3 separate regions of the Homo sapiens genome follow, and all the other regions are linked to region 2. The links come from fine-mapping of genetic effects on gene expression. A gene starts in region 2. Each other region holds a variant in brackets. All regions are shown on one strand. Distances are from middle to middle.

Region 1 (4,352 bases), 190 kb after region 2:
ATGGGATATATAGGATTTCTCTTAAATTAATATAAGCAGCATCTATAGGATTTCTCTTAAATTAATATAAGCAGCATCTACTACATTCACTTAGAACACTAGACATTACCAACCATGATAGACCATCTAAATGAGAAAACTGCTTCTCTTCTCAAATTTCATAGAATGTCCATGCTGGTTTCCAAAGCACATGGCATCTACCTTCAGTAAGCAACACAGAATATTAGAACACCAGAGTTCAAGTTCGTATCTATACACTCTCCAGCTCCAACTAAGAGGGCCTAAGGGACAGACTGTTCATCAATGACTGTAGACTAATGGTTTTCGCCCCTTCAGGCCCACAGCCACTTTTTATCAGAAATATTTTTAAACATGTTTTATTATTCTAAAACACAAACAATATAACTTACGTGAGGCATATTTTTAAATCATCTATCATGATTAAAGGTATCTTTAATATCTAACTGTAATGTAACAGAGAAATAAAAGGAAGCAACTTACGGTAATGTGTAATTCAATCTGGAGATGGCCAAAACTCCTGATGACACAATCATTAGATGCTTGCATATGTACATATAATTACCATTAATGTACCCACTACAAATGCAGACTACTGCAGTAGTTTTGACCTGGAACTCAAATGCCATGAGCAATGTTGCCACTAGTGATAGTTTTTAAAATGATAGAAAACTCTTGGTTACGTACTGAACAAAGACTACAACCTTCCCTCACTTAACTGGTAATTGCATTTTTTAGCAAATCAAGTACTGCAGATCTACAACAAAAATATAAAATGGAGTTATAATCTAAGCTCAAAAAATTATTGTCAACGTCCACCCGTCAGAGATCATGAGGAACAGATCTGCGGTTGAATCGAGTTGGGTTTATCAACACACTTTTACACAAGAGAGATCACACACCATGGGGAACCATGGGGTGCCTCAGTATGAGGGTGCTGGGAAGGGCTTTTTAAAGGATTTGGGGTTGTGTTGGGTGATTTCAAGAAGGGCTCCATGAATCATGGTTTTACTCTGGATTAAGTGCTTTCAGAAAGCAAGGGAAATTCTAAATGAGTGTAAACATTGAAATTTTTAATCTAGGAGGAAGAAGGAACAGAGTGATCTAATGGGTAATGGAGCAAATATCACACATGTAAGCCAAGAGACAAGAATGTTTGGTCGCTCTATGATTTACACAGAATCTTGCTAAGTTCCAACATGCCTATGGAGTGTCTTAATTTTTGTCTTCCTCCACCACACTCAGAGTGGCCTTGTCAGATGTTGTTGTTATATAACATTGTTTATATTCAACAGAATATAATAGCCTAGCCATTAGGGCTAAATCAGCTTCCAGCTGACAGCTGTAGGGGTTGCTCTTCCTTTCTCATTATAAACAGGATTTCTATGTACATAATTATTCAGCGAGGTTCAAAGAAGTCATGAGATACAGGACAATTCTTTGTTGTCTAAAACTGTCCTATGCTCTTCAGGCACCTAGCATCTCTATTCACTTTCACTCACATTTCATTGGCCATTGTTAACCACATGGCCTCAAATTAATTAAGGAAGCTGAGAAATGTAGAACAAATGGAACGTTTAGTGAGCATTACTATCTCTACTACATGCAACCTTCAATAAATTATTTTACTTCTCTCAGTATTAGTTACCTACCTGTAACATGAGGTTACATGGTACATAATGGTCATTCTTCCCTCTTGGGGAGAATCACATGAGATAATACATAAAGGAACTTTAATAAGCTCTAAGAGTTATATAGATTTAAAAGGCCCATAGTACCTATATGTTGGAGTTAATGTGCCATCACTTCTACACACACACACACACACACACACACACACACACCCTTACCTATTTAGAGGTCTGGGTCAAAGAATACATACTCTGGGGGATGTAGAATTAGAATGTGATTTTACTAGGGCCAGGCGTGGTGGCTCACACCTGTAATCCCAGCACTTTGGGAGGCCAAGACAGGCAGATCACCTGAGGTCGGGAGTTCAAGACTAGCCTGACCAACATAGAGAAACCCTGTATCTACTAAAAATACAAAATTAGCC[G/A]GGCGTGGTGGTGGGCACCTGTAGTCTCAGCTACTTGGGAGACTGAGGCAGGAGAATCACTTGAACCCGAGAGGTGGAGGTTGCAGTGAGCCAAGATTATGGCACTGCACTCCAGCCTGGGCAACAAGAGAGAAACTCCATGTCAAAATAAAAAAACAAAAATGTGATTTTACTTCCATTTTACTAGCACCATTCAGTCAATTCACTTGTATCCAAGGCTGACCCAGGGAAAAAAAATGGAAAACCACTTATCCTCAGTCTCTCCTAATTTCTTCAGTCTTAATGAAATGATTAAAGTGTCACAGATTTTATTTTCTAAAGACTATCTCCCATCCCACATACTTCTTATTATAATGTAATCTTAACACTCCTCTCATCAAGTACTGGGCTCTATGTACCCTTCTATAGAAGCTGGATGGACCTTGGTTACTGCTTCATCCAATGAAGTATGACAGAAGACACATCATGTGAATTCCAAGACTAATCATTAAAATGCCATGCACTTCTCTTGCTCTCTTGGAAGGCTCATTGTTAGAACCCAGTGCCAGGTTGTGAAGAAGTCAAATGTGCCCACAGGGAGAAACTACACAGTGTAGGTGTTCCAACCGAGAGCCTAGCTGAGGCCACAGCTGACAGCCAATGTCAACCTCCAGGCCAGTAGCTGAAAAGCTCCCTGCCACTCCCTGGCTCCTTCCCCAGCCATCACTGTGCTCCATCCAAATTCCTGTCCCACACAATTTGTGAGCATAATAAAATGACTTTTCACCAGTAATTCTAGGAGTGGAATTTTACGTAGCAACAGCATCTGAACAGTGCAACTCGGCAGCAACTACAATATTCACTTAATTACTACATAAAGGACAACTATGTATTTACTAAATTATTACATCTCTAATACTGTACTAACAACTGGAGTTGTTAGTACAATATGGAAAGTTAGTTCAAATGGAAATAATCATGGATAATGCTCAAAGTGCACTGTATCGACAAGAATCCAGTTAGGCTATGAGCAACAGAGAAGCCAGAACATTAACACTTGAAGAAGGTAGTTCCTCCCTTCACTTTTATTAAAAGTTCAAACAGGTCGCCAGATACGATGGCTCACGCCTGTAATCTCAGTACTTTGGGAGGCTGAGGCGGGCGGATCACCTAAGGTCAGGAATTCGAGACTAGCCTGGCCATTGTGGTGAAATCCCGTCTCTACTAAAAATACAAAAATTAGCCAGGTGTAGTGGCAGGCTGGTAATCCCAGCTACTAGGGAGGCTGAGGCAGGAGAATCACTTGAACCCAGAGGGCAGAGGTTGCAATGATCCGAGATCACACCACTGCACTCCAGCCTGGGTGACAAGAGCAAAAACTCTGTTTCAAAAAAAAAAATTCAGACAAGTAGTTCAGGGCTACTATACCCACAAGATGGGATTCAGACAGTATCTACCTCATTTCTCTGCCATTCACAAAACGAAGCCTTTATCACATAGTCCAAGATGGCTGCTCTAGTTTCTGCTATTGTGTCTACCTTTCAGGAAAAAGGGGGAAGGGATGGGCGTGCCTCCTCCTTTTAAGGATACTTCCTGGAAGTGTATCCATTGGCCCAAACTTGGTGGTGTGGCCACACCAAGATACAGCAATAAAATCTAGGAAAAGTTTTATCTTTATTCCAGGATGCCATTCCCTAGCTAATTAGGTGGGAAATCTGTAGAAGGAGAAAAACGAATATTAGGGAATACAGGGTAGCTCCTACCACATGCATATTCTAAAATTCATTGTTACTTGGTTTAGGATGCAGTTCAAATAACACAGTTACCTAAAGAACTACACCAATGTATCCTTTGTTAGACTCTCAACCCTAAAGATTTAGGTTAGATCTTTCAGATTGTATTTTAAAATGTCTTTAGTGCAGTATCAATTCTCACCAGACAGAACAGCTAAGTAAAATAAACAAGCTCTTAACAAATTATTAATTTTTAAGAAAGGAAAGGGCATTTAGAGCAAATATTTTCTCTAAAAAATACTAATATATCATGTTTTATATCCTACAGATATTCCTGCAATCTGTTTTCCTTGGGAAAGTCACTCATTAACCTGAAGTTCAGTTATATCATCTAAAGTATTACATATTTATCATGAGGGTTACATGAGATTACACATGTCAAATGCCTTGTAAATAGTAGAATTTTATACAAATATAAAGTTTTGCACCTTCAAAGCTATCACTCCAATAAGACACTTATTCAATTAAACAAATAATCTTAAAAACTATTTTAACAATGTACAAAT
Region 2 (4,000 bases):
CACTTGTCCTTCTGCCATATTATGATGTAGCAAGAAGACCCCCATCAGATGTAGCCCCTGGATCTTGGACTTCCTAGCCTCCAGAACTGTGAGCCCAATAAATCTCCGCCTTTATAAATCACCCAGTCTCTGGTATTCTGTTATAGCAGCAGAAAACTAAGACATGTGCCCAAACAGAATTTTAAGAAATGAGACATGGGCTACAAAGTCAAATACAATGTTTGACTAGGTGCACTTAATTTACAGTCAACTGTTATTTACATACTGAAAAAAATGCTACAATAGTCTTCCATAAATATTAACATACTAAATATAGAATCAATCACACAGAGATTTTAAGAACCGGAAAGCTCCATTTGCTATCCAAAAGTTGGCTTCATACTGGGTAAACATTTTATTAGCATATTTAAGCAAGACTGGAAGATCATAAATATTTTAAAGTACAAAAATCTACAGACCATTTTCTGCAGAAGACACAAGTTTACATGACTTGCCCCACACCCTGCCTTAGATCAGGGGCAAGCATAGGCTTGAAGGGCTCACATACAAACCCCTTTAGTTCCTTTGTAGCCACTTAATTACAGTTCTAAATAGGAGCGGAAATAAAACAGCGCTGCCAATACACTAACAAATACCAGAAGTAGAAGAAATCATATCAGACATCAATGTTTAATTTCTCTTTATGCATATATTACATAAGAATACAGGAAAACTTCATCTCTTCAAAAAAAAAAGTTTGGTTAAGGAACTCTATTCATCGATGGTATATAAATTATTACACTTTGGAGAGCTAGATGGTGGTATCCAGTAAAGTTGAAATGGCAAATTACCTGTGACTCAGCAATTCAATTTCTTGGTATGTACCTAGAGAAATGCAAATATGTTTACAATTAGAATGTACAAGAATTCCTTTCTAGTATTTTTAAAGGGAGCAAACTAAAAGTCCATCAACAGGAGGATGCATACATAATATGTGGTAAATTCATGCAAGAATCACCACACAACAGTTCAAATGAATGACCTGCAACACGTACAGCATAACCATTCTATCAACTTAAAAAGTAACAGTAGGCCGGGCGCGGTCCTCATGCCTGTAATCCCAGCACTTTGGGAGGATCACGAGGTCAGGAGTTCGAGACCAGCCTGGCCAACTTGGTGAAACCCCCTCTCTACTAAAAATACAAAAAAAAAAAAAAAAAATTGGCCAGTTGTGGTGGCAGGCACCTGTAATCCCAGCTACTCAGGGGGCTGAGGCAGGAGAATCGCTTGAATCTGGGAGGCGGAGGTTCCGGTGAGCTGAGATCATGCCATTGCACTCCAGCCTGGGCGACAAGAGCGAGACTCCGTCTCAAAAAAAAAGTATACATTGGTTTAGGATAAACATATGAGTAGTAAAAGTATAAAAATATGCAGAATATAAGTAAATGCTAAATTCTGTTGGTTAATAGGGATAGGTAAGGAGAGAGGGGAATGGGATTTCCAAGGGTTACATAACAGACCTTAATTGTGCCTGTAATCGATTTTTTGTTGGTTTAAGTTTGGACTGGGTACATGGATTCACCCCTGGGTTCACTCTACTTATTGTGTGAAGTATTTTATTTTAAAGAAGAAAAAAGTAGAATATTTTGTCAGTTACCTCAAAACATTTTCGCCTGTTAGTAAAACTGTATATTTTTTTCACAATAATCAAACAAATAATTTTACCCATTTCCAGGATGTTTATTTCTCTACAATACTATATACATCCAGGAGAAAACATAAAGGGGTTTGGTCTAAACTGCCCAAACACAAGCGAAAGCTTTGCAGCCAAGCTAAACAGAAACGACTTTGGGCGGTGAGAGAACAGCTTTGATCTGAATTTAAGGAGCTCGGTCTACAAGACCAGGTGATTGAACTCTCCTCCCCGTGGCTGCAGATCTGAAGGCTCGGCTATTGAAGCAGAGGGGGACGAGGAACAGCGTGCGGGGCGGCCAGCACCGCAGTGGAAAGGCACAGCGCTGCTAACGGGTAATTATTAGAATTAAGAAATTAAACGAATTAGCACAGTGTCGGGGGTTCGGATGCCCCTTCCCTGGGCATCCCTTGAAAACCCTTGAAAAGCATCAGAAAGGTAAATTACGAGGAAACCAACGTCTGGGTGGGAGGTGCCTGTGGATTTGTACGGTTTTTATTTGGAAGGAAAAGTGAAGATCGCGGGGAGGAATTGCAGGGTGTCCGCGACCTCCCGCGATCCTGAGGCGAGAAGTTGGAGTCCTGGTTGGCGAAGGGGGATCCTTTGGGGTAGTCCTAGAGGCAGGCTAGAGTCAGCGAGACCACTCACCTGTCGGCGGATGCCCGGCGAGGGGCGGGAAGGGGCTGTGGGAGGAAGGGGTCGCAGCCTACCACCTGCAGCCCTCGACTGGGGCCCAGACCAGTCTGGCCCTGGCCCCGCCTTTCCTATCTGTGACGATAGCAGCGCCTGAGGGCCACTCAGCGGCCGCCCCGGCCGGCTCGCCGGAGCTGACTGGCCAGTTATAGGAGAGGCGGGAGCTGTCAGGCCAGGAGGGAAACCCGTCGGGCGGCGGTTACTATGGACGCGCTCACGCTTAGTAACCGAGGCTCCCCGCCCTCCGGGAGACCTCCTTGGTTTGGGAGGTGAAAGGGGTGAAGAGTAGCCCAAGGGAGAGGCCTCGGTGATTTCCCGACCTCTCCTGTGAAGCCTGATTCGGAACTCTTCCAGCTGCGAAGAACTTGGCCGATTCTAAGGCACATCAGGGCTGCCTGGAACCCTAACACCTGCCTAGGTGTTGACAAGCCCCCACCTTTCCTGACCAGCCTCTCTTCTCTCCAGCAGAGCTTCTCCTGTGACAGAATTATCTAGTGTTCCTTCCCTGCTTCCTCACTCTAAGAAAATGGTTTGGGCTTTCCCTCTCTCTCTTCAGCAAATATTTCCGTAAACAGCAGCCCGTACTGTTTCTTCCAGGTGCTGGCCCACATTTTTACATACATACATCATTGCTCATCCATGCAACCTCTTTCCAAACCTGTAAGAGGGGTTTATATTGTACAGATGAAGAAACTGAAGTTCGAGAAGTTAATTGACTTAGACAATGTGACTCAGTGGCAGAGCTAACACTAAAACTCAAATCAGTCAAACTTCAAGGCATCTTTCCATGAGGCAGCAGTCTAACCGTGTGAGCAGCAAGAGAATTCACCGAGTTACTTTGGTAACTAGTAATGCTAAAGAAAATAAAGCCCTCAGTTAATTATTTTTGGCTTTTCTGGGAATCACTGTGTGGCACTCCACCCAAGGACGAGGCGGAGGGACTTGCCAGGATAAGGCAGGCTGCCCAGCCCCTAGGAGACCTCAATGAAGTGACTTCAAGTCGGGGGCTGGTCCTCAGCTTTGCCAATTCAGACTCTTGGTTATGCCAGTGTCCCGAGTTTATTAGAGGCTGACTCAGGCCAACCGAACTCATGGGAACCTAATCTAGAAAAGTTAGAATGCTGCCTCAAGTGTTTACATTAAGCAACACGACCCCTCTAACTGTGGAGATGAGCCCAGAGTATTTTCCCCAAAGAGGAAAACCACAGAAAACACCCAGTGCTCAGAGGCTACTCATTTGCCTAGACACAAGACTAGACAAGGCTCCCATACCCGACACCAGGGCACTGCAAATCCTGACTAGTTTTCCCACTATGTTCCTTATCAGCAACTTTTTCTACATTCGGCCTAAGAAACATTTCACTCTGAGCTGTCTTTTTTTATTACTTTTTTCTCATGCATAGTGTTCTGCATTTTGTATTTTCAGTATTCAGCACGGGCTTTGCAGATGCCTAGAATCCGTAGACAATGCAGCAAATGATGCCATGTTTGTTCTTTGGGCCAAAAGACTGGCAACTGTTCTAAAGTAGATCTGATTGCCCACAAACTCTTTAAAGATGATGAGCAGTCTTTGTGCTTTGCACACATCTAGATGCCCAATAGCATTGCTAATTGAAGACAAAATTCATTCAATGT
Region 3 (4,000 bases), 33 kb before region 2:
AACTTGACAGAAACAAAAGTAGGTTTTGTTCAAAAGTCAGTAAAGGAGCAGAGGAAATAGACATACCATGAAGTCGGCAGGAAGTGAAAGAAAAGCAAATTCTGTTTAGCCAGGAATAGGAAAAAAAAAAAAAAGAGTAAAAATCATTCAGCTCCTCAGGAGAAGCTGTGAATGCCTCATTGTTTGATAATTCCGAAGTCCTATTAGACCACTACCCAAAACTCATTTTAAAAGCAACCCTGTGTCTGTCTAACGGCAGTATAAACAATTTATTTGTTCCCATCTCCACTTTTGATGACTCTGCAGAGATTTTTGGAGAACGAAACATCAGTTCAGCTTCTCCTAATAACATTTACATAAAGTCAAAACTGGTGATCTAACTCTAATAGGCCAAGTGGGTGTGCACTCACTGCTGGGTTCTTCTAAAGCAGAGAGGTGCCTCCAGTTGGCTGTCTAGGGGCCCATGTAGTCTCTGGAGTGGAGAGCTGCTTATCCTAAATAATGAGCTGTGCATGAAGAGGGGTTCTATGGAACCCACTTTGAAAAACATGCAGCCTGAGTGATCTCTTCTGTGGCTATGGCCTAGATAACAGCTCCACCAGGAGAAATACAACTCATCCTGGAAATGAAGATCATTTGCGTACAACCTAAAGCACGCTTCATGGCACTCAACACAGACAACATGCGTGCTATACACGTAAGGTGTTTCATCATAATGATCTCCTCTGTGACCTTCAGTTTCATCCTCTGTGTGAGAGGGAGATGAGCATGCAGCATTTACTTTGCCAACTCTTCTCAAATGAGATCAGGTACCTGACAGGGGGATGGTAAATGCATTACACAACGTAAAACACAGGAGAAAGAGAAGCAAATGGCTTGGTGGAATAGAACTCTGGGGTGAGACAGGCAAAGACTCAAACTGCAGCTCTCTCACCACTAAATGTGGCCTGGGCCAAGCCACTCACCCACTCCTGCCTCAGTTTCCTCACTTGTAATATGAAGGTAATGAATGAGATAGTATAAAGTGCTTAGGGCAGTGCCCAGCATCGAGTCAGGTTAAGAGATGGTAGCAGCTATTATTATCATTGCATTGATTATCGCCATCATTATCTTTACTATTATTATCATCATCATCAATGTTGGCCTCACAAGATCCCCCTTCCTTCCATTTCAGGAAATCCACTGTCTCAAACCACCACTTATTTCTTTATTTTATCCTTAGGATCAATCCTTCAAGATAAGAGAATTTTATCGTGGAAGCAGAGCGAGTGGCATCTCCCCACTGCACCAGAAAGGCTTCTGGAGTTCACGCACTGCCCTTGGCTCCTCCAGTTGCTATCAAGTTGATTTACTTCTGCATGGAGCATCTTAGGACCTAAGAATAGCAATGATGAAACCCAGAAAGAAAAGGCAGACTCACAGGTATTGGGAAATTGGAAATGAAGCCGGATTGTGGCGGGGGTAGGGAGGGAATCTTGGCCAGTTCATTACAAGTCCATCCCAAAATGAATCTTCAAAGTGAAAATAATAATAAAATTCATGTAGTGTTTAGTAGATAAACTGTGGGGTCAGATTCCTCCTGCTGTGTATATATAGGAGCTGTGCTCGATGAAGACCAGCTGGCTTTGATTTCTACTGAGAATGAAACACATTGAAATAAACTTAAATGAGATCCTCAGTCACAAAGACAGCAAATGAGTAGATAGGAGTCAGTGGAATTGGTACTGAAAGTCCCTTTTCTGTCGCGTTCCCCATGCTGAGAAATACACAGAAAGTCACAAACTGCTGCTTATAAGACAGGAGTTCTGGAAACTCCGAAGACTCCAAGAACATGCAAAAGAACCCGAACACCACACTGGCCTCCCCGAATGAGTTAAAGGCTTAATAGCACTTTTT[G/T]TGTGTGTAGCGTTGATGTCCTTTCCTTTTTTAAGGATTTGTGGTAAAATATACATAACATAAAACTTTAACCAATCTTAAGTGTACAGATCAGTGGCATTAAGTACATTCACACTGTTGGTGCAACCGTCACCGCCATCCATCTGCAGGACTGTTTCATCATCCCACACTGAAACTCTTCTGCATTCAACATCTCCCCATTACTACCATTCTCACAGAAGGCTCCTACATGCTGCGTATGGGCAGAAAGCAGCTTTCTAAAGAGCCAGGCACCACAGTTGGTCTGGTGGCCCTCCGAGCGAGCCCCGAGCCTTCCCCTCCCACCTTACCGTAGCTGAGCCATGTCTCGGCACAACTCAATGTTCGGCCGTCTTGTGCGCTCATCCAGTCTGGTCTGAGCCACCTTCAGGAAGGCAGTCTTGTCCTTGATGGCCTTCTTGATGGATTCTATGGTCATTTCAGTCTGGAAAATCTCCTGCAGGGTCTGTGACAAAGAGAAGCAACTGCCTGAGGCTTTGGTGTGGTCCCTTCAACAACCCGCCTCCCACCTCTTGCCTGTCCACTCCATGTCCAGCACGTGCCTTGACCTCGCTGATGAGGAAGTTGCTTCACCAAGACCGTCTATCCTTTCCAGCCCTGCCCCAGGGAACCCACGTGTCTCACTGGAGCTGGCATGCACCTGCTCTGGAGAGTGGGCGGCGCCTCTCTCCCCAACCCTAGGCTTGGCAACCTCATTTTGGTAGCTGGAAATCAGCCAGGGTGGGAGTATTTCAACTACAGAAATTGGCAAATGCTCCAAATTAGGGGCTCCCTGCAAGCTGCCCCCAATGGCCGTTGTTAATTACTGACCAGCACACCTCTGTGTTCTGATAAAAGTGAGGCTTTGAGTGGCCCTGATCTCCCTCCTCACATCCATATATCTGTGCATCTCTTCCCACTTTCTCTTCCTACCAACTTGAGCATTGCTTTCCTGCTCACAGAGGATTTCCCTTGCAGAGAATCAGGCTTCAGTTTCAGGTACCTCACTTGCAATAGAGGAGTACTGGCAGTTTTGTATTCCTGATTTTGTATTCGTTTTTTCTTAAAGAGGCCACCACCCCAAATTGCGTAAACATGGATCCCCCTTTGGTTCTCCCTCCTCTTTCTCTGTAAAGAGAGTCCCTGTCCTATGCTCTGAAAAGCCTCCCTTCTCCACGCATCTTGATCTCTGCACTCCTGTAGCTCCACATCCTCCCCATTACTGTCCCTCTTCCTGGGTTCCCTTCCATGGCCTGGAGACACAACCAAGAATCATCTTTTTTTTGGAAACCCTATGTTTTTACCACCACTCTCCCATCCAGTCCCAACTGAGTCCTCTGCCAAATGTATTCAACCATGGCTGTGCCCACTGCCTTCACTTCCCACCCACCCAGTCTCTCAGTGGCCCCTGGATTCTGTCTCTGGCCCTAGCTGCTGTCATGAAACTTCAGTTTCAAAGCTGACATCGAGGCCTCTCTGACACCTCCCTCTCCTTAAGACCCTCATCTTGTTTTCTCTTGCCAAGTGTTGTTCCAACTCCCTCCTTTCCAACTACTCCTCATTCCCTTCCAGTGCAAGGCTTTGTCCTTGGGTGATGTCTCTGCAATATCCTTTCTACACTACAGAGACCTCGTGCAATCACAGATTTAGCATTTGTGTCATCCAGGCACTCTTCAATCTGTCACTTGAGCTTCGACCTCTCTCCCAAGCTAAAAATCATTTCACTGTTTCTATCACTAAGGCCTTCTTCAGATACTATGTGCTCCATGAAACCATCTTGATCTCTTGCCAATGGAAACAACTGCTCCTTCTTGTAAACTGTGTTCACATTTCATCTGTGTTTCCAAGTTCTTTCTGCACCTTTCTGATGCAAATTCCCGTTTTCTGTGTGCATGTCTTGTCTCTAAGACGTGAGATGTATGTACATCCCCGAGTGCCTAGCACAATACCTTGAGTGTACCTGTTAGGGCTGAATAGTGCCTCTTCCCCCAAAATTCCTATGTTGAAGTACGAATCGCCAGTGCCTTGGAAGGTGACCATATTTGGAGATAGTGTCTCTGTGGGGGTGATTAAGTTAAATGAGGTC

Direction of the effects. Alleles are on the strand shown, and positions count from the first base shown. SD is a standard deviation of normalised expression in the study named. Not every link is listed here.
For the expression in thyroid of the gene that starts at base 2,400 in region 2, A is the high allele of the variant in region 1 and G is the other (small effect, 0.33 SD a copy in GTEx).

Evidence for each region. PIP is the estimated chance that this variant, and not a neighbour inherited with it, causes the effect. A credible set is the group of variants that fine-mapping cannot tell apart.
Region 1: its variant is the best candidate, but not a certain one, in a credible set for the expression of TEKT3 in thyroid (GTEx, PIP 0.84).
Region 3: its variant is the best candidate, but not a certain one, in a credible set for the expression of TEKT3 in lung (TOPMed, PIP 0.55).

What each region holds. Positions count from the first base shown.
Region 1 is chr17:15,532,751-15,537,102 of GRCh38, forward strand. The region is part of intron 4 of TVP23C-CDRT4 (TVP23C-CDRT4 readthrough); the gene reads right to left. It overlaps TVP23C (trans-golgi network vesicle protein 23 homolog C), which reads right to left. Exons shown (of 6, transcript NM_001135036.2): 6 at 4,230-4,352. Among named protein-coding and RNA genes, the nearest start is that of TVP23C, 29 kb to the right of the region's middle. RefSeq lists an enhancer at 3,263-3,762. The variant G/A (reference allele first, on the strand shown) is at 2,075.
Region 2 is chr17:15,339,198-15,343,197 of GRCh38, forward strand. It overlaps TEKT3 (tektin 3), which reads right to left and starts at 2,400. Exons shown (of 9, transcript NM_031898.3): 1 at 2,321-2,400; 2 at 831-864.
Region 3 is chr17:15,306,439-15,310,438 of GRCh38, forward strand. It overlaps TEKT3 (tektin 3), which reads right to left. Exons shown (of 9, transcript NM_031898.3): 8 at 2,226-2,380. It overlaps LOC124903932 (a long non-coding RNA gene), which reads left to right. Exons shown (of 3, transcript XR_007065634.1): 2 at 1,223-1,422. Among named protein-coding and RNA genes, the nearest start is that of TEKT3, 33 kb to the right of the region's middle. The variant G/T (reference allele first, on the strand shown) is at 1,897.